Homo sapiens: one gene and its partners. The protein of the gene in region 3 interacts with the protein of the main gene of each other region in a pairwise test. Each region holds a gene or a part of one and is shown on either strand. Other genes may lie near its edges.

Region 1 (7,492 bases), on a different chromosome or scaffold from region 3:
TAAAATCAAGGGAGACAGTGGTCGAGGAGGGTGGAAAAAGCATTGCTGGAAGGCAGGAGTTCAGGGAACAGAGATCAAAGTATGGGAAGGATCATCCATGTGGATGCTGAAATCACTAAGAATTAGGACATAACTCAGCCTTTGAGTAATGGTGATCCAGGAGCTTATTTTTTAGCCTTCTAACAATTTCAGGCTGAAAACTAGTTAAGTGAGGAAAAAGATGCTGCTAGGATATCTTAAGTCAAATCAAAATACCCTCCCCAGCTGGGGGATGGACAGCTTTCCTGAAATACTCATAGTCTGTTTCTCATTAAATGTGAAATTTTTCTTTTTTTGAGACAGGATCTCACTCTGTCACCCAGGCTGAAGTGCAGTGGCACACTCATTGCTCACTGCAGCCTCGACCTCCTGGGCTCAAGCAATCCTCCCATCTCAGCCTGCCTGGTAGCTGGGACTACAGGCACACACCACCACTCCTGGCTAATTTTTTTGTATTTTTGGCAGAGATGGGTTTTCGCCATGTTTCGCAGGCTGGTCTCAAACTTCTGGGCTCAAGTGGTTCACCTGCCTCAGCCTCCCAAAGCGTTGGGATTACAGGCACGAGCTACTGCTCCTGACACTATTGCACATTTTAAACAAAGAGGCCAGTCCATAGACCATCTGACAAACACTCCTTCATGACTCCCTTCATCTATAATTGGTAAACCTCTGATTAACCTGTATGTTGAGCCTATATCTCCTATCTCTGGAATCTCTAATTTAAAAAGCACTAACAAGGTATGTCGACATTTCAAGGGAGTGTTATACAAAAAAGAAGTTGAGCCAGTGTTTGCGGCACGGAGATAATAGCAAACTTAGGGAATTTGAACACAAAAGAGAAATTCGCCCTACCTTACACACCTTGTCTTACTACCTCCTATAAGAACCTTTCTGCAGCTCAAACCCAAACCTCTATTAGGAACAACAGGGCTAGCAAGTCCAAGTTAGGGAACAGGCCAACAAAGAAGGAATGAAGCTTTAATCAGAAGACAGGAACTAGCAAGAAAAACAGATAGAAAGGGAAATGGAAGGTGTCTGGCAGTTCACATTTGTCCAGAATGGTCTGAGCAGGGAAGAAAACATTTCTTTTTTTTGTTTATGGCTTTACTTTCAAGTTTTAAATTAGATAAATAGAAGCTTGGTGAGCATCTCTCAGGGGTGTGTCCCTTCTCTTGTCCTCCTTATCTCGTCTACCAAGTCTCTTCCGTTTCCTATTACCACTTCTCTTTGTGTCTCTCATCTGCTGACTTTCTCCCACCACCTTTCTCATCACCTCCATTTTGCTTCCTTCCACTTCTCTGGTCCTACTTCCCTTTCACTCCTTTCCTTCATCTCTTGGGCCCGGCCATTCTGAGAGCACATCTTGCTAGGCCAGCTCTGGCAGTGGCATGGAGGTGGCATATGCCGAGGTGCAGTGGCGAGGACGTGGTTATGTACAGCTGGAAAGGCTCTGCTGTCACCGTGAGATGACTCTATTCTTCCTTGGTTGCAGTTTTCTCCTACTCTCCATCCCGATAATCCCTCAGCAGCTGAATGCTGCAAAGTGGTGTTGACGAGGCTTGCATAGATTCTCCCCAGTGCGGAAGGGTGGCTCAAATAGAATTTCCTGTGAGTGTAGGAGAGAAAAGTGTTTGATAGGATATAAATTACCTAAAAAGCTCTTTTGTGGGCACACAGATACTTATGCTAATTTAAAAAAATTGTCAACTATCTATAATAGGTATCTTATAAGGGTTGGTGGTGGCCGGGCCCAGTGGCTCACACCTGTAATCCTAGCACTTTGTGGGAGGCCAAGGTGGGCAGATCACCTGAGGTTGAGAGTTCTGAGGTCGAGAGTTCGAGACAAGACTGGCCAACATGGTGAAACCCTGTGTCTACTAAAAATACAAAAATTAGCTGGGCGTGGTGGTGCATGTCTGTAATTCCAGCTACTCAGGAGGCTGAGGCAGGAGGATCACTTGAACCTGGGAGGCGGAGGTTGCAGTGAGCCAAGATCATGCCACTGCACTCCAGCCTGGGTGATAGAGTGAGACTCCGTCTCAAAAAAAAAAGAGTTGGTGGTTTATTCATGACATTTTACTTTAGAAAACAGAAATCACCCCTCCCTTTTAGGGAAATCTATCTCTGGTCAAACAGAGGCACATAGGAAGTACTTCACAAATGTTTGTTAAATGAATGTGTGGATGGACGAATGGGCCTTGAGCATGAAGACAGAAGGACTGGGACCTTAGGGAGGTCTGACCCCACCCCAGCCCCCTTAACCTACTTCCTTTTCACTCTCTGCATCCCAACCCAAGCAGTAAGAAGGCCCTTCAAGAGCTCCAGGAAAGGAAAAGAGAGGAAAGACCACATGGGGAGTCTGCAGAGGAGATCCCTTACACCTCCCATACAGCAAGAGAAAGCAGCTATAGCGTCAACAGCATCTGGGGGAACTCTGGGGGCCCTGGAGGTGCCACACATCATGGTTTTGCTCAGCCCAGTTGGGAAAAGAGGGCTGAGGTCTCTGTGGCCAGCATTCCTCGACCACACCCCACAACTTTCTGGAATCACCCTCAGGACCCCAGGATCTGACCCAGCCCTGAGGCTGAATGCCAGGGCTGCCCCACAATGGCAGGGGATTCCTCCCATTGCTGTACCTATGGGTGGGGCCAGCTGTGGCCCGGTGGAGGCTGCCAGAGTGCTGAGTAGTGAGAGGGGCTGCAGGCCGGAGGGGTTCTCTCTTTCCCACTCTCCGTACGTGAATGAAGCCCTCCAACGTAGGTCACAGGTGCAAGGGATGCTGTCTTCACGGGAAGAATCTTTCCCTAGATCAAGTAAAGAAATGCATTTGCTTGTGTGCTGGTTCACAGAGCCCTTACAGGTTACAGCTGACATTTGGGGGGGTGCTTACGATGTGCCAGGCACCATTCCAAACAATTACGTGCATTCATGGTCCTTTAATCCTCACCTCTGTGAGGTCAGAGAGGGTGAGTAACTTACCAACTGTCACACAAGGAGAAGCAGAGTCAGAATTCCAAGCCTGGCAGCCTGGCTCCAGAGTCCACGTTCTTACCACTATGTCACGTGAACAAGACAGCACCAGTAAAAGGAGAGACCCAATATGATTCAGATGGGTTAACTGAGTGGATTTCCCCAGGAGACTCATCTAGCTGAACTAGCAATGGCCTTGAACCCAGAAGACCTTAAGCTAGAGCCTGTTCTTGGTCCACTTGGCCCTGGCTCTTCAAAGGATGGCCCACAGCCCAGCACCTTGGGCATTACCTGGGAGCATGTTAGAATCGCAGTCTCAATCCCGCTAGACCCAAGAAATTAGAATCTGCCTTTTAACAAGATCTATGGGGGACTGTTTGGACATTAAAGTTTGGGAAGCACTGCAATAATAGGCCATACCACCTGCTGGTGGTGAGTGGAAAGATTCAGCCACACAGGTGCTGTTGGGCCTCTGGTTTTTCCAATTTTAAGTCTCTTTTTCATCCAAAAGTTCCAGAGGCTGGGGTATAACAGTCTTTTTAAACTGAGAGACTACACTCCCTCGCCGAATGAGAAAAGAGGGCCTGGAGGCCACCTGGGATGGTTAATTTCAATTCAATTTCAGCCTAGGAACATCTTGGCCGTGGTAGGTCCCATGATGCCAGATACCCTGCGACCCTAAAATTCTAGCTGTTTTCTCAAGTCCCAGAAATGTTTGAAATATTCCTCACATCTGTTTTCTTCAACCCTAATGTCATGGGGTATGTTTTGAGTGTGTATGTTTATACATATGTGTGTTTGAATGTATGTTTAAATGCAGAGAAATGAGTCACCATCATGTCATTAGTCGCATAACATGAGAAAACATTCTTAGGCTTGGACAAAATGTGAGGCAGCCACAGCTGTGCTCACCATTTAGAACAGGGGCTGTGAGCTGGCAGCCTCCAGGCTGAATGTGGTCTGCAGATATGTTTTGTTTGCCCACTAAGTGTTAGCCAATACTATGCTTGAATATTTTATGGGAAGGTGGTATGCCACATATGTCCAGATCTTTTGGCTTCTCTTGAAAAATCAGAATATTTGGCCTGGATTCCAGCATGGCAACAACGAATGGAAGTCTTAATTGAAGCTTTCACTTTCTCATTGCCACTATCCCCACCACTCCCTGCTGTCTTCTCAGTTTTGACACCAAGTGTCAGCTGCCAGCAGTTGTTTTACTTATAACAGAATTTAGAGAAAAGTTAACCTTTTCTTACATCCATGTCACCCAGCCCTTTATCCATTTTTTTTTTTTAAGTCTGAGTCTCGCTCTGTCACCAGGCTGGAGTGCAGTGGCGTGATCTCGGCTCACTGCAACCTCCACTTTCCCAGATTCAAGCGATTCTCCTGTCTCAGCCTCCCGAGTAGCTGGGACTACAGGTACGCACCATCATGCCCAGCCAATTTTTGTATTTTTAGTAGAGATGGGGTTTCACCATGTTGGCTAGGCTGGTCTCGAACTCCTAACCTCGTGATCCATCCACCTCGGCCTCCCAAAGTGCTGGGATTACAGGCGTGAGCCACCGCGCCCTGCCCCCTTTACCCATTTATACCACCTGCAGTCCTATGCATTTGTAATCCCTGATTTAGACGAAAGTTAGCAGAGTTCCCCTGGGACCTACAGCCTTCTCTAAATTTATAAATATCTTATGATATTTTGGCTGCCTACTGAGCCAACGTGAAGGAATAATTTATTAGTGCCATGGTATATGGGTATTAATTGCCTCCCATTGTGTTCTCAGGCCTCTGCTTCATGCTGTGGATAATTGAGAAGCCTGAAAACAATTTAGTATTCACTGAAGAAATATCCCTCAAACCTATAAAACAACTAGGGAATAATGAAAGAGAGGTTATGACCGAGGAAGGATTAGCCTGGCAGGAAGGTGTTGTGTGAAGGGTAGGATTTAGAAGGATAGGGAGGATTTAGAGTGAAGCATCGGGGGAAGGGAGTGGATGGGGGATGAAGGAGGCATGGGATGGCTAAGGTTTGCTGGAGCAAAAGATTTGGGCTAGAGAAGATGATTAGGCAGAGGGCTGCTATTAGAGGAAGAGTGAGTGAGCAGGTGAGATGGGTGAGATGGGGGAAGATTGTGCAGGGCCATGCATGCCGAATTGAGTGGATTTGGGGTGAACTAGAACCTGGAAATAGGGAACTGGCTGCTTTTTCCAGAATGTGTCATGCTCCCTCTTGCAGACTCTGTCTCTTCTTCCTAGAATGCCCTGCGTTACCTGTTTCAGCCAGCTCACCTGCACTCATTGTCTATGACTCAGTTCAGAAACCATGCCTCCCAGGCAAGCTTCCTGGCAGGAATGAGGGACCCCCTTCTTTGTGCTCCTTTGGCACCCTAGGCACAAGCTTTGAATGTTGCCTGGAAGGAGACATTTTGTAATTCGGGGATTTTCCCATCTGACACCACCAAATTATAAACTTCTTGCGGGAACATGGTGTCTTTCTACATGGTGGCCCTAGAGCCCATCACAGTAACTGGCACTCAGTGCGTGGTTTTGAATGAATAAATGGATAAATGAACTTATGGAAGAGTGCTACAGGCTTGAGATGAGAAGGGCTGGGCTGGGGTAGGGTCTGTGGGTGTAGAAATGAAGTAAAGAATACAAGATACATTGCAAAGAAAGAAATTGGTTAGGACTTGGTGCCAACTTGATTGTGGTGGCCAGAGAGCCTAAAGGAATTCAAACTAAGGCATGGAAGGACAATGGCAATACTGACAGCACCAGGACAACCAGGATGGGGGCTGGAGGGGATCTTATTCTTATATCCAGAGTAGAAAGCTCTTTGAGGCATGGTACCCTGTGCCCTCCCTTACCTGAGCTGTTCTTGTTGGTCTCCACCTTTCTGCTGCTCCTGAAACTCGAGCCATTTCAGGATCAAGGAAATGAAAGTTGAAAGTAAAGGAAAAGAACATTAAATTTGTATTTCAGATCTTGTTCCAAAGTTCCTGATGCAAAGCTTTAGAGACAGATATAAATATGAAAAAGGCCAGCTGTGGCTATATTGGATGGGTGTGACGCATATTAAAGTTCCAGAAAAAAAAAATCGGGAAGGGGGAGGTGGAATGGGGTGGGAGGTGGGGAGCAGAGCCCATGCTGCTGATTTTGCTGAGGAGGAGGGGGTGACTCCATCTGTTCAGTTCTGCATCTCAGCTATTTATTTTATTTGCTGTTAAGTTGCATGTTGTTGCCAATGTGCAAAAACTGATAATAATTGCAACCAGACTAGAACCAGCCCAAATGAGAGAAAAATCATCACTCAGGGGCTTCATTCTGGGAAACTAACAAGAAAGAGCTAAATGTCTGTACAAAGCAATTATCAAGATAGCAATGAAGCAAAAACTAATCCCTTCCTCCCCTCATTTCTTACATCCTTCCGATCTGCCCAGAGTAGGTTGCCATAGCTCCCTAGCTCGTTTTTCCACATCTCTCCTTCCCTTCAAATTAACTGTCAGGCAACAGCTAGCATGACCTTTTCAAAATGTAAATTGGATCACGTCACTTCCCTGTTTAAAATGCTGCTAAGGCTCCCATGATACTGGAAGTCTAAATATCTTCGCATGGCTTCCCAGGCCCCGCCTGGCTCACTCCTTGCCCTCTTCTATTTATTCTCTTCCACCACTACCCGCTTTTCCCCACTGGCCTTCCACCAAGCTTCTTCCTTTGTGGAAGCCTCAGCCTTGCACCTGCCCATTCCCTTAACCTGCCTGGCCCTTCTTCACCCTTTCTTTAGCTGTCTATTACCTATTTTCTCCTTCAGACCTTAGCCTCCTCTCAACTTCTAGAAATATTAAAAGCTGTCTGTGCCAGAGAGTGCCAGTAGGCCCCCAGTGACCCTTTTTGCCTTCTCCCTGGGGAGCACAGTGTCTAATTTTGTGTTGTGTACATGTCTATGCAAAATGGGGAATGCATTTCCCAGCCTCCCTTGCAGCTGAGTGAGGTCACGTGACTGAGTGTGGCCAATGAGGTATAAACAGAAACGGTTCTTTAAATAGTAATTTAAAAATCAGTGATTTGAGCAGACACAGTGGCTCCCTCCTATAATACCAGCACTTTGGGAGGCTGAGGTGAATGGATCACATAAGGCCAGGAGTTTGAGACCAGCCTGGCCAACATGGTGAAACCCCATCTCTAATAAAAATACAAAAATTAGCCAGGCATGGTAGTGAGTGCCTATAACCCCAGCTACACTGGAGGCTAAGGCATTAGAATCGCTTGAACCCGAGAGGCAGAGGTTGCAGTGAGCTGAGATGCCACTGCACTCCAGCCTGGGCAACAGAGTGAGACTGTCTCAAAAAAGAAAGAAAAAGGAAGGAAGGAAGGAAGGAAGGAAGGAAGGAAGGAAGGAAAGTGATTTGATAATTTGAGATAGCCAAAAAGCAGTTTCAAAATACCTTGCTCTATTAGAGTCCAGTGCCCTCTAGCTCAGCAATAT
Region 2 (7,639 bases), on a different chromosome or scaffold from region 3:
ATCTCAAAAAAAAAAAAAAAAAAAAAAAAAAAAGGCAGAGATGGGTAAGGAAGGAGGGATAAAATGGTTGTTTTTTCCATCCGTCTATCCCTCTCCCCAATTTAAGAGGATGGCTCAGTACAGGGCATTCTTCCTCTAAACAAAATTGATAAGTTACCTAGAGCATCCTTCTAGGAGGTAACCCCGTTCCACTATCTCCTCTCCTACCGAAGGAAGGCCCTTCATTGGTCTCCTAGTCCTCCCCAAGTAAGGGAAGATTCCGGTCCTTTCCCTAAAGATGTCCCCAGGGTGGGTGAAGCCTTTAGTGAGACCCCAAGATCGCTGGCCTAGTTCCAGCAGATCCCAGTTCAACCACCAGGTGGCGCTGTAAGTTCACTGAGCCCTCCTAACAGCAGGTCCGGCCAGAGCCCCCAGCCAGACCAGCGTTCCCTGTAGGTCCCTCTGAACCTCACTTCAGGGAGCACTTGTATGCGTTCCTACCTGACCTGGGGGCTCCTGAGAAGAGCGCCTGCCTTCTGGTGCTAGGCCCCAGCCAGGGCTGAAGGGCTCTGGCTCCTTAGGTCCCCAGGGACTCCCACAGGGCTAGGGCACAGAGTTGGGGCCAAGAGACCAGAAAATAGGCTGGGCTGGAACCAGAATCACAAGGGCTGGGTGAGGAGAGAGTGGCCACTCCCTGAGGGGACTTTGCCCTCCAGATTTGGGAACCCCTTCTCACTGGAACATACATGCACACACATGCACATACTATACACTGGGTACGGGGGTGGGAGGATACGTTATCCCATGCACATGCACGTTTCAAACACGTATACAGGCTGGGCGCGGTGGCTCACACCTGTAATCCCAGCAATCTGGGAGGCTGAGGTGGGCAGATAACCTGAGATCAGGAGTTCAAGACCAGCCTGGCCAACATGGTGAAACCCCGTCTCTACTAAAAATATAAAAATAAAAATAAAAATAAAAATTAGCCAGGCGTGGTGGCACACGCCTGTAGTCCCAGCTACTTGGGAGGTTGAGGCAGGAGAATCACTTGAACCCGGGAGGCAGAGGTTGCCGTGAGCCAAGATTGTGAGATCACACCACTGCACCCCAGCCTGGGCAACAGAGTGAGACTATCTCAAAAAATAAAATATGTATACACACATGCATACTCACCTCATCATGCATGCACGTTGCACATACACATACACCCCCAGACATTTAAAAACACATGTACAAATGCATATTAATTCCATCATGCACATGTGCCCACTTGTACATTTCCAAATACACATGCATGCACATGCACACTCAACTATGCATACACAGTAAACTCATGCACGCCTTCATTATATTCACACAGAAATGTGCCACACAGATGTGCACACCCAATATTAAAGTGCACACATTTGGCTACCGAGCTTACACACACATAAAACACATAAAGCACATGCACGCTCATAACCTGCACGCACCACCACATACACACACGCAACCCGCATTTGCGTGCACGCCTCCGCCGTGCTCCTGGCCCATCCCAGCAGGCCTCAGGCTGGCGTCTGGGGAGTGTGTTGGGTCGGCCAGTCCAGCACTGACCTCTGGTTGCAGAGCTGGCAGGCGAAGCAGTCGAGGTGATACACGTTGTCCCGGGCCCGCATCACCATCTCGAAGGCTGGGATCAGCTTGCTGCAAGCAGCACAGTTCCCTGTGGTGCCAAAGAGCCTGCCGAGGGAAGGGCGCAGAGGACTCAGCAGCATTCTGGGAAGCTGGGTGGGCAGGGGGAAAGGAGTTGCCTCCATCCAGGGTCCTTCCCATACTCCAACTTGTGGGCTCAGCAGGTGGGCTCAGGCAATAGGATAAGAGCACTGAGGGCAGCATCTAGATTCTGCCCAGAGATCAGGCTGCCAATAAATCAGCACATCCCCTTCCAGGGAGGGTGTGTAGGGGGTCAGGAGTTGGCTGCCACTGCCCATCCCAAGGCCCCCTCCCAGGCTCCCACAAGGGTCCTCAAGCCCTGGAGCCACCAAGAGAATCCTAGGCTGGGCCCTGAGCAAGCCTGAATTTCAGGGGCAGACTGAATCTTGGGTTGTGTGCCCTCAGGCAAGTCAGTGAGTCTCTCTGAGCCTCATTTACCTCATCTGTAAAACAAAGCCTGAAACACACCCTTTATGGGGTAGTTGTGAAACCTGTTGTAAATTCTCAGTCACAACTCACTAAGCAACCACCTAGGTAGTGTTCACTATGTGTCAGCCACTAATCTAAGAGCTTTACAAAGATAAACGCTTAATCCTCACAACAAACCTAGGAGGTGGTACTATTATTATTCCCCATTTTAAAGATTTAAAATATGAGTCACAGAGAAACAACTTGGACAGTCACAGGGCCTTGGTCCAGAAGGCGTGCTCTAAACCACTGCATGACATGCTTTTCCCACCTTTAACATTACAGTGTTTATTATTTGATTTTTAAAAATAGAGATGGGGTCTCACTATATTGGCCAGGCTGCTCTCGAACTCCTGGCCTCAACTGATCCTCCTGCCTTGGCCTCCCAAAGTGCTGGGACTACAGGTGTGAGCCACTGTGCCTTGCCAAAATTAAAGTGTTTTATTAAATCTTTTTTCCATGACAAACTCACTGTGTTACTTGCCTAAGTCCCTTTTTTTCTTTCTCTGAACCTCAGTTTATCCTTCTGTAAAATAGGGATGGATGATCCTATTCAAAGATGCTGTAAAACAGAACTGATGCCCAAAGGAAGCGCCAAGGACATCTGGCACAAATGCCTCTTTGAGGCAGGCACCCCTCCTCTTAGCTGCTGGCTGTAAAGCTCTAGGGACAGGGAGTTTACTCCCTCCCCATGCAGGCCAGCCCTTGGCTGGATGTCCCAATGGTCTGAGCCATCCCGGCTCCTCCTTGCTTCTTTCCTGCACACAGACAGAGCAAGCCCCAAGTGAGGCAAGGAGGCTGAGAAGAGGGTGGGGGGCCCCTTTAATCCCCGATTTGTCCAGCTCAAACTCAGGCGCCTGCAGATGAGCTTGGCTCCATTATTCATCAGCTTGAGCTGCCTGGTGGCTCAGATTAAGGCAGACAAAGGCTAGGCCACAGCATCTGCCTGCCAAGAGGGGCTTTTCTTGCCATCGGCCCAGGAACAGTTGCTGCAGAGGGCGCAGGCTCTGGACAGCCATTCTCCAGGCCTGAGCAGCTCAAGGAAGCCACGCTCGCATCCCAGCCCACTGGTCTAGCTGGTCCTACAGTCACTCCTTGCCTCTGCCAGAGCAAAAAAAAAAAAAAAAATTACCTTCCATCCCTAGTAGCTGGCAGGGCCCTATATGCTTGAGGGTGCTTTTTCCTGATAAGCCCATCCTACACTGTGGGCCTCTCTCTCCAAGTCCTGTGAACCCATCAGATGGTCTGCCACATCGTCCTAACCTGGTAGAGTCAGCCCCCAGGTGATGCCCTAAACCTCCAGACATGGAGGCCCCTTCTAGGTCCTCAAGGGGTGAATCCCCAGGAACATTCTTTTCTTTTTTGAGACAGGGTCTTGCTCTGGCACCCAAGCTGGAGTACAGTGGCGCAATCACAGCTCACTGCAGCCTCAAACATCTGGGCTCAAGCAATCCTTCCACTTCAGCCTCCTGAGTAGTTGGGACTACAGGCATGCAGCCACTACACCTGGCTAATTTTTTTTTTTTTTAGAAACGGGGTTTCACCATGTTGCCCAGGGTTGGTCTCGAACTCCTGAGCTGGAGTGACGTGCCTGCCTCGGCCTCCCAAAGTGCTGGAGTTACAGGCATAAGCCACCGCGCCTAGCCTGAACATTCTTCCTTAACCCCTGCTTCTGGTCTCAGCCTCTCCCCTCCAGCCCTGGCAAGGAGCACTAAGTCACAGCTTCTGTTTTACTGCATCACTTTTAAATGCAGGTGTTAAAAGGGGCAGGCAGGTCAGTCAAAGGATCTTTGGGGAATTGAGGGAGCTTCCACTGATAACCTCCCCCTTGCAACATGCCCAGACCTGGGCAGAGGGAGCCCCATGAAGCCCTTGCCCCGACCTGTTAATTAATGCGATGAGCCCTCCTTCCCCACAAGCCCGGCAACCATCCAGCAGCCTGCGACAGAGCCAAATGCAGGTGCTGGGTCTCAGCCAAGGCCCTGCTTTGTGGCCTCCTTCCAGCCTTGCTGATGTCATAAATGGCCTCAGGGAGGGTTAATTGGGGGAGGTGGCCCCAGGGAATAGGATCCAAATTGTAGGGAGGGTGAGTTAGAGCTCAGAGGAATGCAAGGCAGGGAAGCATCATTCTTTCACCCTTCACGGGGAAGTAAACTGAGGCTGGGAGAAGATTAGGAGCCAAAGGCTCACAGCTAGTTCCAACCCAGGTCTTGAAGCTCCAGCATCAGTGGCCCTGCTCCTAGGATATGGCTGCCTGCCAGTTTCCCTGGGCAAATGGATGCCTGCTCCCAAGGACCATCTAGAAAGGAAAGTTGGACACTGGGAGATGGAAAGAGACTGCATTAGGGAGGAGGGTCCTGGGGAAGTCAAAGCTTCCACACCTGTTCTCAAAGCCCCTCTGAGGTATCCCCTCCCAGATTCCAGATCAGGTGGGTCAGAAGCACCTGGCCAAGGCAGGGGGGCGGAGCCAGACTGGGGCCCTCGGAAAGCTTAACTTAGGGGCCCCAGGTTACAAATGCCTGCCCTGGACTTGTGCTGGGTACCGAGTCCAAGGGCATAACGACCTGGGCCTTCCCCTCAGGTGACTTCTCAGGTATCTGGGGCAAGCAGGGCAGGGGCAGGACAGTCAAGAATGAGAGGACACACAGGGTACTGGGTCTAGGGCCGGGGGCACAGTCACGCTGGGGCTGAGGATGGGGAGCTTTCTGAGCAGGACAAGGGCTTGGGAGGCCAGGGTTTGGCAGCCCACCTCAGGTAGTCGCGTCGGCACAGGATGAGGTTGGCCTTGGTGTAGAGGGTGGAGCCCACCTCGCCCAGGCGGCAGTCACAGCAGGCACACTTGAGGCAGTCTTCGTGCCAGTACTTGTCCAATGCCTTCAGCAGATAGCGGTCCTTGATCTTGCGGTTACAGCCCGCACAGCCCTTCTGCTTCCCTTTGGGCTGGACGGAGAGCATCGGCACGCCTGCAGACGGACAGACAGACAGCAACGCAGGATGGGCCCCGTAGCTCTGGGCCTCAAGGAATATCCCCCAAGAATGGGGAGCTCACTGCTTCTCTCTGCTGCCCCCTCTAGGTTTGGGGCTCCCAGGAGCCCTCGCTTTCTCCCCAATAACCTCCTCCCCTGGCTCCGGGTCCTGCCCTTTGGGCTACATGGCACAGCCTGTTTCCCTGGCCCTGTGAAGGTCCCTCCAGAGGCTGCTCTGCTCCAAGGCACACACAGACCCCAGGCCTGGCCTCCCTGAGTTGTTCCTCCCTACCATGGCCTCTATCCCCTGTGCGGTCTCATCCGGAGTAAGCCTGAAGCTCGTCTTGTGAAGCCACCATCACATTGGCTCTTTCAGCAATAAGCCTAAGAAATGTAGTCTCCTCAGGCCCACGAGGTCCTCTAGAACCCCCAGATCTTTGTGCCAACTCGTCTTTCTCCAGCTGAAGTGCTACAGCCTCTTGGTCTATCCATGTAGAGCTGTGATGGCATCAAGAAGGAAGTGAGACGCCCCTGGGACACTCCCAGGAGGGAGCAGAGGCTCTGGGGCTCCTGGCAGGTAAGCGGAGGCAGCTGGCAGGGCCTGGCTGGGGCTCCCCTTGGGAATGCTTCAGGCGGTGTCACACCTCACCTGCCCTGGCCTGGGGGAGGGCAGGCTCTGAGCCTCTGGATCCTTCCTCATTCTACCAGGATTAGGATCTCTCAGCCATCAGTCCCTCCCAGGGCCCATACCAGCTTCCCAACATACACACAGGCACCAAGTACAAAGGGCCCAATGTGATGTTCACCACAGGGCAGAGCCTCCCGTCGCGGCAGGCGAGCATGTGCGCTCACACACACCCCTCACACACAGGCACGACGTGCAGGTGTGGGCATGAAGTGACAGAGGCACGGGTTCCTAGTCCCTTCTCCTGGAACCACAGGGACCGTTGAGGAGGAGATGGGGACATATGTCGTCCAGTAGCCTGGACATCCATGTGGACCCGTGAGGCTGGGAGGGAAGTGCAGAGGACCTCAGAAGCCCTGCTCTGTGACTTGACAGGGCGGGAGCCTGTGGCAGTTGCCTGAGAACCCTTGTGAAGACAGGGAGCGTGTGCATGCTCCGTTCCTGACCAAGGCGCAGCTGGATAGGGGCCCACCCCTCCCCACCTCCCCGGCTTTCCAACACTCCCCTGGAGTCTGTCCTTCTACTGGCCCCGTCCTCTCCAAAGGACCCCTGCTCTCTCCAGGGCTCTGGCCTTCCTCCCATCCCCTGGTGTCCCTCCCATTCCCAGCCCTCCTCACTGCCCCCAGCCCAGAGTCTGAATGGTTGGGCTGCTTCCCTTCCTTTTGCTTCTCTCCTCCTTGGGCGTTAGGGGAGAACAAGCCACAAGAGGCCTTGGTCTCAGAATCCACAGATGTAAGGTCAGAAGAGCCCTCAGAGTTCTCCCAGTTAAATGTTCTCATACTACAGATGGGGAAATTGAGGCTCAGACAGTTACAGGGGCTTGAGTCAGCCACCGTCAAGCTGGCCCCAGGGCTCCTTCTCCTCTCCTGTGCTCGCTCTCAGCCCAGCTGGCTCCTCAGACTTCTCCTGGACAGGTGAGTCTGGGGAGCTGGCGCCCACCCACAGGCTACAGTGTGCAGGGCCAGTGGCTCCCTCCTCCTTCTCCTCCCTGCAGTCCCGGCAGGGCCTGTCTGTTAGCTGGTGAGTGTGCTGCCTAATTTCCTTAATGCAGCTCTAAAGGTTAATTGGTCTGAGAGAGGGATGGGGCACAGGATGACTCTGTCCTCGGGCCTGCCTGTGTCTCTTCTAGCAGGGCCCAGCCTGGCACAGAGCTCTGAAAGAGCCCAAGGAGGGCAGCTGGGGAGCAGATACCCCTGAGAACTGAAGGGGTCTTGTGAGGCTCCTTCCAAGTCCTGGCCTACAGGGAGGTGTGGGGAAATGGGAGAGGAGTTAAAATAGCTGGATGGGGAAATGAGGGGCCTCCCAGAGTGGGACCTGGACCAGGGTAGGGCTCCAAGGGCATGACCTTGTCCTTAGGCCCTGTGCAGGGAGCATGCAGCCAGCAGAGGTACGCACTCAAACACCGACTGGGAAAATCTTGGGCCAGGCCCCCGCTACAGCCCCTACAAGGCTCACGTTCCTTTTGCTCAGCCAGGCTTGCAGCAGGCCTGGCTCCCTTCCCAGTGGTCCTGAGCCCCTCCCAGGGCTCTATATTTGGGCTATTACCAGAACATGGGTGAATGGCTGGAACCTCCGTACTCAGGGGAGACCCTAGCCCACTAAATTATAGCCCAAAATGAAGGGAGACAGTGAGAGGCCCCAGCACGTGAAGCAGCTGTCCCACTCTCTCTTCCATCTACCCTGGCTCTTGGACAGGCTGGTCTTCCGAGCTCAGACCCCAGCATGTTTGTCCTGGCTCCCGCAGGGTTGTAAACTCCAGCACTGGTCGACAATCTCTTCACTGGAGGCATCTGGCACCTAGAGGACCCTGTGGAAGCCATGAGGGGTGAAGCTGCCAGCCGCCGCA
Region 3 (6,938 bases):
TTCTCCTCTCTCCCGCTCCTCTTGTGTCCTACCCTTGCCCCAGGTCTTCTCCTGCCTGCATCTCCCCGGACCCCCGTCTACACTAACCTTCCCCACCGCAGAGGCCTTGTCATCTGCCCCTTATGTGCCCCCTATGCTGCCTTGCATTATCAATTTCCTCGTAACATGTCCCTTCTGTCTCCCACCACCTGAGCAGCAGCCCTCTGGGCCTAGGCTGTGGGCCCGGGATGGTAGGGAAGGTTGTCAAGGGGGCACCAGGTAGGCTGGAACCAAGAAGGCTGGACAGATGGCCATGATGGTGACTGCACCTGCCCCACCAGGGGGCCCTGGGGCAGTGGCAATTGTAGCCATGCTGGTCTTTTGCCAGGAGGCCATATGCAGTAGACCCAGGAGTTGGCTGGTGAGGTGAGCAGACGGTAGGGCATGCAGTTTGGGTGGGGAGGGGCTCTCTTTTGGAGAGGACGCTCTGACTCTACATGGACACCTGTCCCTGGGTCCCTTTTCCTCTCATTTCACAGATAAGGTCCCGGGGTAGGCGATGGGGGCAGGGGCCAGCTGAAGCCTGTCTGACCCCGGGGGCCCCTTTCCCACTGCCCTGTGCTGCCTTCCTCACCCCCTTCGCTGGTGGAAGGGACGTCATCTTTCCTGTTCCAAGGGGAGAAGTCCCAGGGAGCTGCCACACCGCAGCGAGGGGAGAGGAGGGCAGATACACGTGGCTCTAGAGGGCGTGAGAAATGGCATTCTTTATTCATAAATAAAAACATAAAATTGCCACAAATAGTTTACATGGCCAAAAAGTGACGTCAAAAATAAAATGAAGCTGTCAAAAGCAAACCAAACCAAACAAGAAACCACAAAGAGAAAAATAACTATGTACATCTTCCAGATGCTGGTCCGTCCCAGCCTGCCTCTGCTGGGGGCTCCAGCTCTGCCTGCAGGCGCAGCACAAAGGCCACCTTGCACAAGAGGTGGGTGAGCAGCCCCGCTGGCCCAGGGGTGCAGCCTCTGTCATGGCAGCACCCACCGCATGATGGCTTGAGGTCTGCAGGGAAATCCCTCTCCCCAAGCTGCTGCTCCTCCAGCCAGGCCTGGCTTAGTTTCGGGCAACTGTCTCACCTAAGAGATGGCCCAGGCTGGGGCCAGGCACAGGAGGCTCACTGAGTGCCTCTCTGGGGAAGAGATGCCCCCATATCCCAGTCCCATGTGAGCTCAGTGCTATAGGGGCTGTGTGTGCCTGGCAGGAGTTCACTGGGAGAGCTAGGAGGGAACCCCGTGACAGTCCAGTCGTTCCCAGGTCCAGGGGCAGAGTCCGATCCTTGGTGAGGTGATGCGGAGTGCTGCTCTCTCCTGCAGGCGTCCTTTGGGGACAGAGCAGGTTGGTCCATCCGAGTGGGTCAGTGGGTCGGCCAGCAGGCGTGCCCAGAGGGAAGGGCAGGAAGCCCACCCTGTCTGGGGCCTGGGGCCAGGCTCTGTGCTTGGAGGCTTCTGCTGTCCAGAGCCTCTTTCCAGAGAGGCAGAATCTGGCATGGTCCAAGAATAGTGAGGGCGCTTTTGGACAGGGCAGGAAAGAACACCCACAGGAAGGTGAGGTTGCAAGGTCGCAGGATACTTGCATTCTAGTGCCACGGTGGGCCACTCTGGGGCGGGGGCTGGTGGCAGCCCAGGGAAGACATCTGCCACCTTGGACGTAGGACAAGGCCTGGGGGGGACACATCTGGGCCGGCCTGGGACAGGGCCATGGAGATATGGAGAAGGCTGCACTCCTCTGTGTATGGAAGGTACCGGGACACCATGGCGGAGCACAGCCTCCGCCTCAGGGCCTTCCCCTGGGTGTGGCAGCCACTTCTTCTCAGGCAACGTCTGAGGCAGAGCACTGGACTCTGACTGCTCTTTCCTGGAGTTGGGGGGGGGTCTCCAGCCTGGGGAGGGGGAGCCAGCCCTTTCCTCTGTCTCCGTGGGGCAGTCTCACTGGGAGGAAAAACTCAAACAAGGCACGGCCTGGTGGAAATGAAGGAACTGAGGGCTGAGGCGCAAGGAATGGGGCATCTTTGACTTGGGTCTGGACTGTGCCCAATGGAGGGTACTGCCCTCAGGCAGGGAGGGACTTTTGGCTTGTAGATTCCAGGTTTAAGCCTAGCTTGGGACTAAGAGCAATGGTTTGAAATTCCAGAAAAGCTCCTCTGTCGTTTGAGGATGGCAGGATGGGCACCGTTTAACCTCAGGGACAGGAAGGTAGAGCCAGCCACAGAAAAGGTGACTCTGGCCTCAGCCCGCACTCAGGGAAGGGCTAGGACCCATGAGGGCGGGGGGCAAGGAGAGAAGCATCTCCCCACCCCTACCTCGGGGTCTCTAAGGGCCAGCGGTGAGCGAGGCAGAAATGGGGACTGGCCTTGGACTCGCAAGTTCCCAGACGCTCCCCTCCTCATCTCAGCAGGCAGCAGGCGCAGGCATGTGGGAAGGGATGCTGTCCTGAGAACAGCAGCTGTGGCTACAGTCAAAAATAGAACATGGAACAGCCTGCTAGGTCTGGCTTGCTTCTGAAAAGACAAGAAAGCAAAAAAGAAAAAGAAAGAAGAATAAAAGAAAAATCTGGCCAGGCACGGTGGCTCACATCTGCAATCTCAGCACTTTGGGAGGCCAAGGCAGGTGGATTGCTTGAGGCCACAAGTTTGAGACCAGCTTTGGCAACAAAACGAGACCCCGTCCCTACAAAAAAAATGAAAAGTTAGCCAGGCACGGTGGCGCGCACCTGTAGTCCCAGCTAGTTGGAAGGCTGAGGCAGGAGGATTGCTTGAGCCCAGGAGTATGAGGCTGCAGTGAGCTATGATCATGCCACTGCACTCCAGCCTGGGGGACAGAGCAAGACCCTGTCTCATAAAATTAAAAATAAAATCCCTGAACCAAACAACAGAGAAACTCCACCTTTTATCTCTCTCTACCACCGCCTCCCGCTCCGCACATCTGCAGAGAAACCCTGGACTCCCTGGGGCACTGCCCAAGCTCCTGAGAAAGGGAGCTGCTCTCTGGATCCTTTAGTCTGGGACAAATGGGGGTCTTGAGGTGGAGGGAGGATGGCTGGTGGCCAGGCTATTCACACTGCTGTGTGTATGCCTCTTTTTCGTCCTGCTTGGGGCTCTGGCTTCCTGGCGCTCTGAGGAGCCGTCCTGACCTCTAGAAACCCAGAACTCAGCCCTGAAGGTGCTAAGGGGGAAAGGTTTGCCGCTAAACCTGGCTGTAGGCAGAGGAGGAAAATGCCCAGATCACATATATGCCATCTTAGTGATATGGGCTCTTCTGGATCAAGCAAAAGCTTGATTCTGGGGAGGGAAAAACATTCCAGAGTAGCCGCCGGCCAACGTGAAGCAGGTAGGGACTCCCAGCCTCTGGCCCCAGCTGGACAGATGGGGAGGCTCCCTGAGGGTGCCTGGAAAGCCACACCCTCTGGTTCACGGTGGTTTCAACCCTCCCTTCCCAGCACCCAGCCCAGGGCCTCAGGGTCTATGGCTTAAAGAAGAGTGGTCACCGAGGTCAAAGGTCACTGGCTGTCCAGAGGCTGCTCAGCTCCCATTTGCAAGAACCAGTAAACAGGGGCTGGGCCCCAGGGGCTGGCCATCACCCGCCACTGGCTCTCAACCCTTGGATTCTCCCTCTGCCCTCCTCTGGCTGTGGCAGGGTCTCCACACTGCTGGGCTGCCTGTCTCTCCCCTCCTTCCTGTGGCTTGCCGGGGCTGGGACAGCCCTGAGGTTTCAAAGCCAGCTTCCCCGCGGCTCATTCCACCCCTACACCTCTGCGGCCAGAGGAAAATAGCTCAGGTTCTGATGGGGCTGGTTCCAAGGCTTCTGGTCATATATGGCTTCTTTCTATTTCCAAGGCATTCCAATGTGTCCAGGAGGAAAAAGAGGTTGGGATGAGAAGCAGAGGGGAGCCGCTGTACTTGCTGTGGCCACCTTCCCTGGAGGAGGGGGAGAGGATATCTATTTCGAACAAAGGCCAAAGTTTAGGGAGCCCTTAACCAAAGCAGACAGACCCCTGGACCCATCTCCTGGGAAAGCCAGAGGAGTCAGGGCCTGACGTCTGGTGGGCTGCAGGGCTGGTGAGCACTGGGACATCAGAGAGGGAAGGAAAGGCCATCCTGCCCTCCCCTCGGGGGTCCTGGGTCTGTGTCCCAGGGAGTGGCGTCTCTCAGAGGGGTCTGAATTGCTGAGCAGGGGGGATGCACGGGAGAGCCCTGCCTCCCAGTGCCAGGTCCCCAGACTCGCCTTCCCAGGCAGCCCCTCAGATCTCAGTGGCTATGATGTCCTCGTAGGGGATGTCAGCCCCTTCCAGGTCAACCTCCAAGGGCTCCCCGGCGCTGTCCCCACGTGCCAGCTGCTGCAGGGCCTTCTCCAGGCGCTGGTTCCGCTGGTACATGGCCACGTAGCTCTGCTGCAGCTGTTTCTGGTACTGAATCACCTTCTCCTTCTCCTCCTTCCACACGAGCCGCTCATGCTGGAAGCCCGAGGACATCTGGTCATGGCCTTGCCGCTCCTCCCGCAGCTCGGCCCGCAGCCGCTCCAGCTCCCGCTGCAGGGCAGGGACGTCCTCGGGGAAGGTGGGCGGCCCCATGTCGCGGGCCAGGGCGGCCTGGGCCCGCAGCTCCTGCAGCTCCTGCTCCAGCAGGTTCACCTTCTCCCGCAGCAGCTCCGCCTCGTTCTTCTTGCGCTGCAGCTCATTCTCACAGACCTCCAGCTCCAGGCCCTTGGTGCGCAGGGCGCCCTCCAGGTCCTGGGTCCTCAGCTCCAGGCCCTCCAGCTTGCCCCGCGTGTCCTTCAGCTGTGCCTTGAGACCCAGGATCTCGCTAGCCTTGGCGTTCACCTCCGTCTGGGACTCCTTCAGCTGCTGCTTCAGGAGGGAGATCTCGCCTGACTTCTGGCACACCTGCCGAGGGTGGGGTGGAGACAGAGTGCCAAGAGGTGAGTGTCCTTACCCAGGGAAGTGACAGCTCAGCTGCCTAAAATAACCAAGCCACTCCGGATGCGGTGGCCCGGTGTTAGGCATTCCAGCCTTTGTCCAATCTGAAAGTAAGCTGAACATTGCTGTGACCTTTTCCCCAGGTTATCGAGCTAGGCTATATAGTAAAATGATAAAATAATAATAATCATGTATAATGACACATAGTATATTATTATTGTTATTATTTGAGAAGTCTCGCTTTGTCACCTAGGCTGGGGTGTAGTGGCGTGATCTTGGCTCACTGCAACCTCCGCCTCCCCTCTGATTCTCCTGCCTCAGCCTCCCAAGTAGCTGGGATTACAGACACCTGCCACCATGCCTGGCTGATTTTTGTATTTTTAGTAGAGACGGGGTTTCCTCATGTTGGCCAGGCTGATCTCGAATTCCTGACCTCAAGTGCTCTGCCTGCCTCTGCCTCCCAAAGTGCTGGGATTGCAGGCGTGAGCCACCACGCCTAGCCACACAGAAGTATATTATTATAAACATACTTTCACTAATAATTTGTAGTGTTATTAAGTGCCAAGCCATACATTTGCTCATCTATTCCTTACAACCCGATGAAGTAGGTACTATTAGTAGTCCTCAATTTACATCAATGAAACTGAGGCACAGAGAGGTTATGATAGCAAATAGCTGGTGAAGTGACCAGCCTGAGGGCTAATATATATATATATATATATATATATATATATATATATATATATATATATAAAATATAAAGTATAAGAGTAGAGATTTGATCCCAACAGTTTAATCACTATACCCCATTGCCACCATGGCTAATGTATTTACAATCACCTGGATCATAAGTGGTCAAGCTGAGGTTCAAAGCCAGGCCCATGCCTCAGCCATGACTGTGTCACTCCCTTCGTGGCATGAATACAGGGTTGGCCTTGGAATGAAATTCTTGGTCCCAAGCACGCATCCTGGGTAGGGTCGGATTTTCTCCAGGACTGTGCAGTGTTTCACTGAGGGCAAGGGGAAATTTCTACTGTGAAAGGAAATGTGAAGGTGGCTTCCAGGCTAGTTCCAAGAATCCATTCTGTAGAGCCACATGCTCTGGACTTCATTCACTCTTAAGATTCAGCCAGACTGGCCTTGGTCTCCCATGACCCCAGATGGCCAAGATCCAGAGACACATGGGTCTAACCTGTGGCTTCGGTTTTCATCATTGCTCTTGGCCAAATTTTGATGGGGGATAGGGGTGGAAATAGAGAAGAAGAGCAAGAGGAGAAGACAATGATTCCTCGTTTGACAGATGTGGATTGGGCTCTGCATCCAAGCCAGCATGATACTAGTCACTGGGTACAGCAGTGAATTTGTGAGGTAGTCTTTACTCCAGTAGACAGGAGAGAGGAGGGCTGGGTGCATGCAGGGGTGAGGTCAGAGGATGTGGGCATAAACGTCGATGACGGAAATCAGGCTGACACCAAAACCAATACCATTGGTGTTAAATGGGGGTGATACAGCTGCCAGCAGTGGGCAAGTTAAACCACTGGTTGTTGACTTGCACATAGCCAGGGGTTTGCGTGTAGACTGAGAGTTGGACTCTGAACTGGGGGTGAGGCAGGCACGTGGACAGACCAAGCTGGGTGCGAGCATGTAAAGAGCCTCAACGATGGGCTTGAACTCCATGAGTCATCCAGACCACCAGGCTGGTGAGAAAAGCTGCTTTCCCACTAATAGATGCAGAGGTTATGGGGTTCTCCAGCACGGTCAGGTACAGATGCCTCATTTCCACGTGTGACCGGGTGAGTGAGTGTGTGTGAGTGTGTAAGTGTGTGAGTGGGGGACTCTTTACTTCCTCTCCTAGGTTTCCATCTCAGCTCACCAAATAGAAGTTCCACTTACACTTCAGCAAGGAGTGGCCACTTCCATCACTGAAACCTGCCACCAATAGGGTCCCTCTTACTAGTGGGTGCAGTCCCTCCCTCCAAAGCAACAA
Region 4 (7,639 bases), on a different chromosome or scaffold from region 3:
TTATCTTCAGTTAGAGAAATGTTTCCACAGGTCCTTGATAAACTAGGGAAAAAGACCCCCAGGGCTTTCTGATAGCAGGCGGGTGTCCTTGATAGCGTGACGGGTGGGGCAGGCGGAACTTTGGCATCAGGGCGCAGGGATGGATTCTAACGGTTTCTTTGCTGGTTGAAGAGGCTGCTTCCTGCCGACTTCTTTTTTTTTTCTTCTTATTCTTCACTTACCAGCCCAGCTTGTGAATGTGAAGGAGTTGTCCCTTTTCCAAATGAACAGGACTGGTGTATCAGGTGGCCTTGCCATTGTATGCACCTGCCGGTCTGAGAAAGCAAGTGTTCTGTCTGTATCTGCAACTGTTTGTGTCTCACGCTTTGCAAATCTCTTATCCCTCTGAGTCTCAGAAATCCCCCATGAGTGAAAAAGGGCAGGTAGCCTGGTGCCCATTTGATAGGAGAGGAAATTAGGCCAAAGCCCTTTCAAATCTCAAACATGCCTAAACTAGAGAACTGGATGACCCTTGTTCCTTAGACTCGGGCATTCTTGCTCACAGGAATGTCTTTTGAAAATTTATTTTTCAAGAGGAAGAGCTTCATGAGGCAAAAGCCAACACGCAGACACCGTATTACCTAGCGGCATTTATTGGATTTGTCTCTTGAGTGATTCAAACAAAAGATTACGGTTATAAATAGATAGACCTAATTGTGGCAAACAATGCCTACCTTTTATTGAGCACTTATTATGTGCCAGGCATTTTAAATACTTGATCTTATTCAATCCTGATAAGAAACCTCCTGAGATCAGTAATATTATTCCAATTTTACAGAGGAGGAAAGTGAGAGAGAAATTTCAATAACTTTCCCAGGGTCATACAGCTGCATAAATGTAGGAGACGGAATTTAGACCTAGGTCTTCTGACTATGCCCTCACCTCATTCACTATGCCAGTGTTTCCCAAATTTCCTACGTTTGCATGTTAGGAATACATATTCTTAGGCCCACACCCAATCTCCCAGATCAAGGGAGAAACCTCAGAAGGCCTTTCCCTGGATACCTGATCTAAAAAATAGCCTCCTCCCCAGGCACTAACACACCGTTATTTAATTTTCATCATTATATTTGTCACTACTTGATATTTTCTTATTTGTGTATTTGCATATTGTCTTTCTTCTCCACTAAGGGATGAGTTCCATAAGTGCAGATACAAGATGTCCAACGTTTTAACTTCTAGAAACTGACCAAGGGGGATGGTACCTACGAAGTACTCAAAACATATTTATTAGATAAGTTAGTAGACACTGTCCAAAGTATTGTGTTAAGAAGAATTGTGAGTCTGGACCCAGGTTCTGGAGAGAAGATGAGAACACTGGTGTGTGTCCTGAGGTTTCAGGATGGGAAAGTGTTGGCACATAGGCCATGTATTTGCCATCCCAGAGAAAGAAACTCAGTCTCCCCAAAATTAAGAGGAAGATGACACAGAAAGTCAGTAGGAGAGCCAGGTAAAATGCAATCACTTCTTTCCAAGACCTTTATCTCTTACTTGGAAGTCAAAATGAACACATTTGTAATGGAGAAGAAATCCATGGTCAACAGTGAGGTGCTGATCAAAACTGCAATCAGATTGGATTAGGGAGAGATCAGAGTGGATGGACATCAGCATGGAAGGCTTTCTGGAGGAAGCAGAAAATCGAGTTGCCCCTTGATGAGCGATTATCTGGAAACTTCCTTTGTTGTCAGGCTTGTACTTTGAGCTATACATAGAGTGTTTTTTAGGCCCTTGCAACACCCTAATGAAGTAAGTATTGTAATCATAATTTTATGGGTGATGAAACTGAGTCACAGAAAGCCTACAGAACTTGCTCCAGCTCACAGGGCTACTAAGGACTGAGTAGGAATTAACAGCCGGTGATTTCAATAATGGTTTTCTTAACAGAGCAGGTGTGTCTGGTAGGAAACAGCCCAAGTAAGGGTCTGGGTATGGGGTCAGTTGGAGGAGCTGGAGGTGCAGTTCACAGGTAGTAATGAAGTCAGCTGGTTGCAGAATTGGACCATAACAATATTCCAGTGAAAGGAACCAGATCTGCTGTTCTCTCCCATTTAAAAGCCTTGGATGCCAAAACGCACCACACCTGACCCGGTGATCACAGGCAATTCAAAGGTGTATTACTTATGCAGGCATAGGCAGCGAGGGAAGCCACTGGTTGAGGGCCCCACTGAGAAGAGGACTCCCTGACTTCTGGGGAGGAGAAAGAGCCTGGTGCTGGGGACCTACGTAGATATAGGACAGGGGCCCACCTGTTGAATAATGCCGAGAGGAGGTAGTGGGGGAAGATTAATTTTGAGTGATCTGCTCCATTGGGGGTCAGGCTGGGGGTGGTCAATCAAAAAGAGTAAGGGTGAGTTTTCTTGCATATGATTACTAGGTGCTGCAGAGGTGAGTGGGGCTGAGTGGGTGGTGAGGGGTGGGGTGCCCTGATGGTTTCTGCCCCAGTGGGTGTTAACTATTTGGACAAATGACATTTTGCTGGGAGCAACTTTTTGCACTCAACTCAATTTCTTCAAAATTCACTCCCTAACATTTGGTTCACCATCCAAAGAGCTAATATACTTGTATATAGGCTGTACCAATTTTACATAGCCAGTGCAGTATGTAAGTCTACTTGTGGGCAGGAGGGCTCCTAAAACAAGGTCACCCCAGGCTACAGGGGACATCCAAGTCCTAGGGAGTTCAGAGTACCACATGTAGAATTTGGTTTCTGTTTGGTGGTACATCCATTGGGCTATTTGGATTACTTTGCCTTGCAATATTTATCCACGTCCAGCAGGATACACTATGCCCTCTGAGAGCATATACTCCTTCTGGGAAGCTGGCATATCATCTGGAGCTAGTCTCTTATCTGCCACCCTGGCAGTTAGGGGTTTTTGCCCTTCAGTGAAAGCTTCCAGTGCTGCTGTTTTTTGTGTTACGTGGGCTGATAGGACCTCGGATCTTTCTCTGAAGTATCTGCTAGTTTTCCTGGTGTGATCATATTGTAAGACCTTAGTCCCACTCTTCTGGCCCCAAGTCATGCTTATACCCAGGACAATGGGTAGGAAGACTGCCCATCACCTCTGACTGGGGACTGTGACCAGCAGGGTTAAATTGCAGAACAGTCAGAAAAATGTGAAGGGGGTTGTCAGACTTAGCAGTGTGCAGGTGAGTTTAGGTATTTGGGACGTCAGGAAGAAGTTATCTAGGAGTGGAACAGGTGAAGCAGGTTCCCTCTGGGGCTTCCAATCTCTTGTGTTCCTTTAATATCTGGGGTGGGCCATGACACTAGTTGTGCTGTGTGGGCCTAGGAAGATACAAGCATAGGCATGTATTTATACATTTGGATAGATGTATGATCTGGACTCATGAGCCGGGGACCAGACTGGATAACATCTGAGCCAACATAGGACAGGGCAAGACCTAGGAGCCTAGACCAGAAGTGTTTGGTGTTGGTGGTTTTGTGGTGCAAATAAGGGAGTGGCCTGCTCATGGGGGCAGATAGGAGGCCCAACATTGCATGAGGTCCAGCCACTGGGATGTGGCTTTATCTCTGTGTACATACAAGTTAGCCCGGAGATAGCCTTAGGCAGTAGAATTGCTTTGGGAGGCCCAGGAAGGGAAGTTCCAGCCACAATGGCAATGAGGTTTATTGTGCCCAATGGGGAGGAAGTGAGAGGAGAGAGTTATAACTTTGGTGGCCTGTGTGGTGGCCACCCTTTTCAGGTATGTGACAAATGCTGATTGAGGGATCCCCCAAGGGAAGCTGTTTGTGCTCCAGCAAGGGGGTCCCTTGGTAGATGATGTGGGTAACTGGTGGGCAGCCTCCAGGATGCAGTGGTTGGCTGGGCTGTGGTCATCACCTGCAATGTGGCCATTGTCTCCCTGGGCTGGTACACCTTTTTTTTTTTTGAGCCAGAGTTTCGCTCTTGTCACCTAGGCTGGAGTGCAATGGCACAATCTTGGCTCATTGCAGCCTCTGCCTCCCAGGTTCAAGCAATTCTCCTGCCTCAGCCTCCCAAGTAGCTGGGATTGCAGGTGCCCACCACCAAGCTTGGCTAATTTTTTTGTATTTTTAGTAGAGACGGGGTTTCACCATGTTGGCCAGGCTCGTCTCAAACTCCTGACTTCAGGTGATCCACCTGCCTTGGCCTCCCAAAGTGCTGGGATTACAGGCATGAGCCACCATGCCCGGCCACAACTCTTAAGTCAGATTTGGGTCATGGAGATATAGGCTGACATCTGGAAGGGTGTCACAAAGATGCACAAAGCAGAAGGGGTGCTTGAGGGCACATTTAGAAGGGGTGCTGGAGGACACCACATGCGCTGGGCTGACAATTGGGCATCATTTCTATGATAAAAGTAGTTTGTAGGGGAGGTGGGACTAAACATACAGGACCACATTCCTTTTTGTTTGTCCTGATGGCTTCTCAGGATGATGTGATATTCCTGGCCCATGGTGTTGTAGAAGAATTGTACATTCCAAACAGATAGGGATGACACTGTGGGTGCAGTATTGCCGAGGTGTCCCAGCGCTGAGTAGGGAAACTGTGTCCCAGGCCACCAGCTATATCAGGCATAGCCAGCTATAAAAAACCTAAAGGTTTCACAATAACATTTTCAGTTTTTAGACTCTGTAATAGCATTTAGGGCTGGCCTTTTATAATGACAGGGGCATCTGTATCCCACAGCTGTGAGTGGCTGTCTGTGCTTTGGCATCCGTGGTGGGGAATAGACAGCCTCAGGCATTGTTATTTCAGAACACGAATGTTGGGGGGCTCCTTTGTCTTGCTCCAAGATCCACATGGTGGTAGGTGTCAGTCCAGGGGCCAATATTCTATCCCCTGTGGAACAAGCTTAACATTAGCCAGCCTTTAAATCCATCACAACTGGTAGATGTGTTAGGGGATGGGAGAGCCTCATTTCCAGGCTGGTAGAAACATGTTGTCAGGGACTTCGCTCTTCCATCCATAGCCAGCAGGTCCCACTTATTATTTGCCATTGGTCTGACACCGATGCCTTGTGAATTGTGGATAGATTGAAAAAAGATATAGGAATGAAGGATCAGAGGAGCAATCCCACATGGGAATCCATGACTTGGAACCTGGGACTCTTGTCAGAACTAGTAAGTGTAAAATGAGGGCATTTTATTATGGATGAGGGGCCCATAGGGGCAAGTATCAAGGGAGATAAGAGCAGTAAGGAAAACTGATTTGGAAACCACAAGCCATTTTGTAGCTTTAAGAGAATATACATCATTGTGGAGTTTGCGGTAGCCTGGTGGGAGAAGTGAGCCAGTGACAGACAGGAATACATGTCCACCATGGTTAGGGCATATTGTGGGGTTGGGGAACCTGAGGGAAGGACTCATTACCGTCAATTTTCCATCATGAGTGTGGTCAGTTTCCTCAGTGATTCTGCTAGGAGTGACATATTGCACCCACCCATACTTCTCCACAGATATTCAATATGTTTGGGATAGCAGTTGATTATGGGTGGGAAACGTAAATGCAGCATCTTATTGTGGAAGGCCTTAGCTGCAAGTCTCCAGGAATGTGGATTTTTTTTTTTTTTTTTTTTTTGAGACAGGGTCTTGCTCTGTTGCTCAGGCTGGAGTGCAGTGGTGATACTGTGGTTCACTGCAGCCTTGACCTTCTGAGTTCAGGTGATCCTCCCACCTCAACCTCCCAAGCAGCTGTGTGTGCCACCACGCTTGGCTAATTTTTGTTTTGTTCTTTTGTTTTGTTTTTTGTTTGTTTGTTTGTTTGCTTTTTGTAGAGATGGGGTTTTGCCATGTTGCTCAGGCTGATCTCAAACTCCTGGGCTCAAGCCATCTGCCCGCCTTGGCCTCCCAAAGTGATGGGATTACAGGTGTGAGCCACTGCACCTAGCCAAGAATGTGGATTTAATGAGCCACTAGTCCATGGAAGACTCTTGAACAGGGGAAGGATGTGAGTGGAGTTGCATTTGGGTTGGGTTGGGGTGGGGAGAGGCTGGAGGTGAGGCTGCTGTGCTAGGAGCTTAACCACCAGTGAAGGGTTGAAGAAAGGAGGTGGGGGCAGGGGGAATGACTGAGTGGGCAATGACAGAGGCACTCACGTGACTGGCCAAGACTTGTCTGCAGGAGACCAGGGAGCTATAGCCAGGCAGCTGCAGGGCCATTGATAGAAGCTGCCATGGCTTGAGCACTTGCTCTATGCATACTCACGCAAGCGCATTCGTATATGATCTCGCTCATCCCTCACACTGAGGTCATTTGTGGGATGCAAATGGCCAGCCTTATGCTTCTGCCCCATCCACACAGGTCAGGGGCCATACTCTGTGCCACTGCCAGGGGGATCCTTTCATAACCTGCATCAGATCATTTCGCTCCTCTGCTTGAAGCTCTCCCAAGGTTTCCTTCTTGCCCAGAGTAAAAAGCCAAAGTCCTATAAGGCCCTGCATATCTGGCTCTAGCCATCTCTGTGTCCCCTTCTCTTACACTCCCTTCCTCCTTCCCTCCCTCTGCTTCATCCACACAGGACCCCTTGTCATTCTTCAAACTCTTGCTTTAGGGCCTTTGCTCTTCTCCTTCTTCCGGGAACATTCTTCCCCAGATGTGAGTTCTTCTTATTAGAAAGGTCTTCCTTCATCACCTGAGTAAGACACTAATAACCCGGGCCAGCGCATTCCATTTTCCCTCACTCTGTGTTATTTTTCTCCCTAGCACATATTGCCATCTGGCATACTATATGTGTACTTGCTTATTTGATTGGTGTCTGTCTCCCCCTCTCAAGTTTGTAAGCCCCTTTCAGGCAAGAGCAATGTTTGTTTTGTTGACGTCTACGTATCCGCAGTGCCTAGAACAGTTCCTGCTGTGTATGAGGCGCCCAGTAAACACTTGCTGAGTGGATGAATGAAGTGTGTATTATCATCCTGATTCAATGAAAGGGAAAACTGAGGCTCAGGAAGGGTACGCAACTTCTCCAGGCAGGACAGCTAGTAGTCGCCAAAGCCAGGGTTCAAGTCTGACTACAAAGCCTGTCCTATTTCCGTTAGGGTAGAATACCCTCGAGGAGTCTTGGATCTTTGTAACTGAGAAAATGGATCTTTAATAAACAGAAATGGGGAAATTGAACAGGTTTGGGTAATAGGGGAAAGATGACAAGGTCATTTGGAGCTCTGCTCTTCTTTGAGTGCAGTGGGACCTCAGAGGCTAGGGGTAGCCATTTGAGCATCTCCTGTGTACCAGGCACTGTACTGGGCACCAAGAATTTAAAAATAAACAAGACACCGTCCCTACCCTTGAGGAGCTCACCAACTAGGGGTGAAATGTCCAGGACACACTCTCTGAGTTCCTAGGGCTGCAGCTAACCTTAGCCAGACCAGAGCACAGATGAGCTCGCAGCCAGACTCTCCAGGCCAGATACGGGCCAGGCAGCAGCATCCGTTCAACAGAATCGCTGAGCAGTTCTGTTGTGCCAGACAAAGCAGTCACACTAGAGATACAGAAGCAGGTCAGACAAGGGTCCATTCTCAGAAGCTCACAGCAGTGAGGAGGAAGCATCCTTCACTCATTTGTTCATTCATCTGTCAGCTAGAAAACAAGTACTTGCCATGTGCCAAACACTCCTAGGCTCTT

The links.
Region 1: the proteins of LZTS1 (region 3) and GARIN1B interact in binary tests that used the Homo sapiens proteins (3 or more experiments, as listed by UniProt).
Region 2: the proteins of LZTS1 (region 3) and LMO1 interact in binary tests that used the Homo sapiens proteins (3 or more experiments, as listed by UniProt).
Region 4: the proteins of LZTS1 (region 3) and LMO2 interact in binary tests that used the Homo sapiens proteins (3 or more experiments, as listed by UniProt).

The regions. Positions count from the first base shown.
Region 1 is NC_000007.14:128,725,253-128,732,744, reverse strand, and holds the end of GARIN1B (Golgi-associated RAB2 interactor protein 1B), read right to left. Parts: intron 6,530-7,492; exon of another isoform or gene 5,924-6,529; intron 5,918-5,923; coding exon of another isoform or gene 5,912-5,917; coding exon 5,874-5,911; intron 2,844-5,873; coding exon 2,676-2,843; intron 1,646-2,675; coding exon 1,632-1,645; 3' UTR 1,002-1,631; downstream 1-1,001. UniProt on the Homo sapiens protein: RAB2B effector protein required for accurate acrosome formation and normal male fertility. In complex with RAB2A/RAB2B, seems to suppress excessive vesicle trafficking during acrosome formation.
Region 2 is NC_000011.10:8,225,400-8,233,038, forward strand, and holds part of LMO1 (rhombotin-1), read right to left. Parts: exon of another isoform or gene 7,473-7,639; intron 6,708-7,472; exon of another isoform or gene 6,580-6,707; intron 5,686-6,579; exon of another isoform or gene 5,570-5,685; intron 5,106-5,569; coding exon 4,892-5,105; intron 4,880-4,891; exon of another isoform or gene 4,162-4,879; coding exon of another isoform or gene 4,025-4,161; intron 1,702-4,024; coding exon 1,576-1,701; exon of another isoform or gene 1,455-1,575; intron 1-1,454. UniProt on the Homo sapiens protein: May be involved in gene regulation within neural lineage cells potentially by direct DNA binding or by binding to other transcription factors.
Region 3 is NC_000008.11:20,245,446-20,252,383, forward strand, and holds the end of LZTS1 (leucine zipper putative tumor suppressor 1), read right to left. Parts: intron 4,919-6,938; coding exon 4,277-4,918; 3' UTR 720-4,276; downstream 1-719. UniProt on the Homo sapiens protein: Involved in the regulation of cell growth. May stabilize the active CDC2-cyclin B1 complex and thereby contribute to the regulation of the cell cycle and the prevention of uncontrolled cell proliferation. May act as a tumor suppressor.
Region 4 is NC_000011.10:33,881,963-33,889,601, forward strand, and holds part of LMO2 (rhombotin-2), read right to left. Parts: intron 315-7,639; exon of another isoform or gene 222-314; intron 1-221. UniProt on the Homo sapiens protein: Acts with TAL1/SCL to regulate red blood cell development. Also acts with LDB1 to maintain erythroid precursors in an immature state.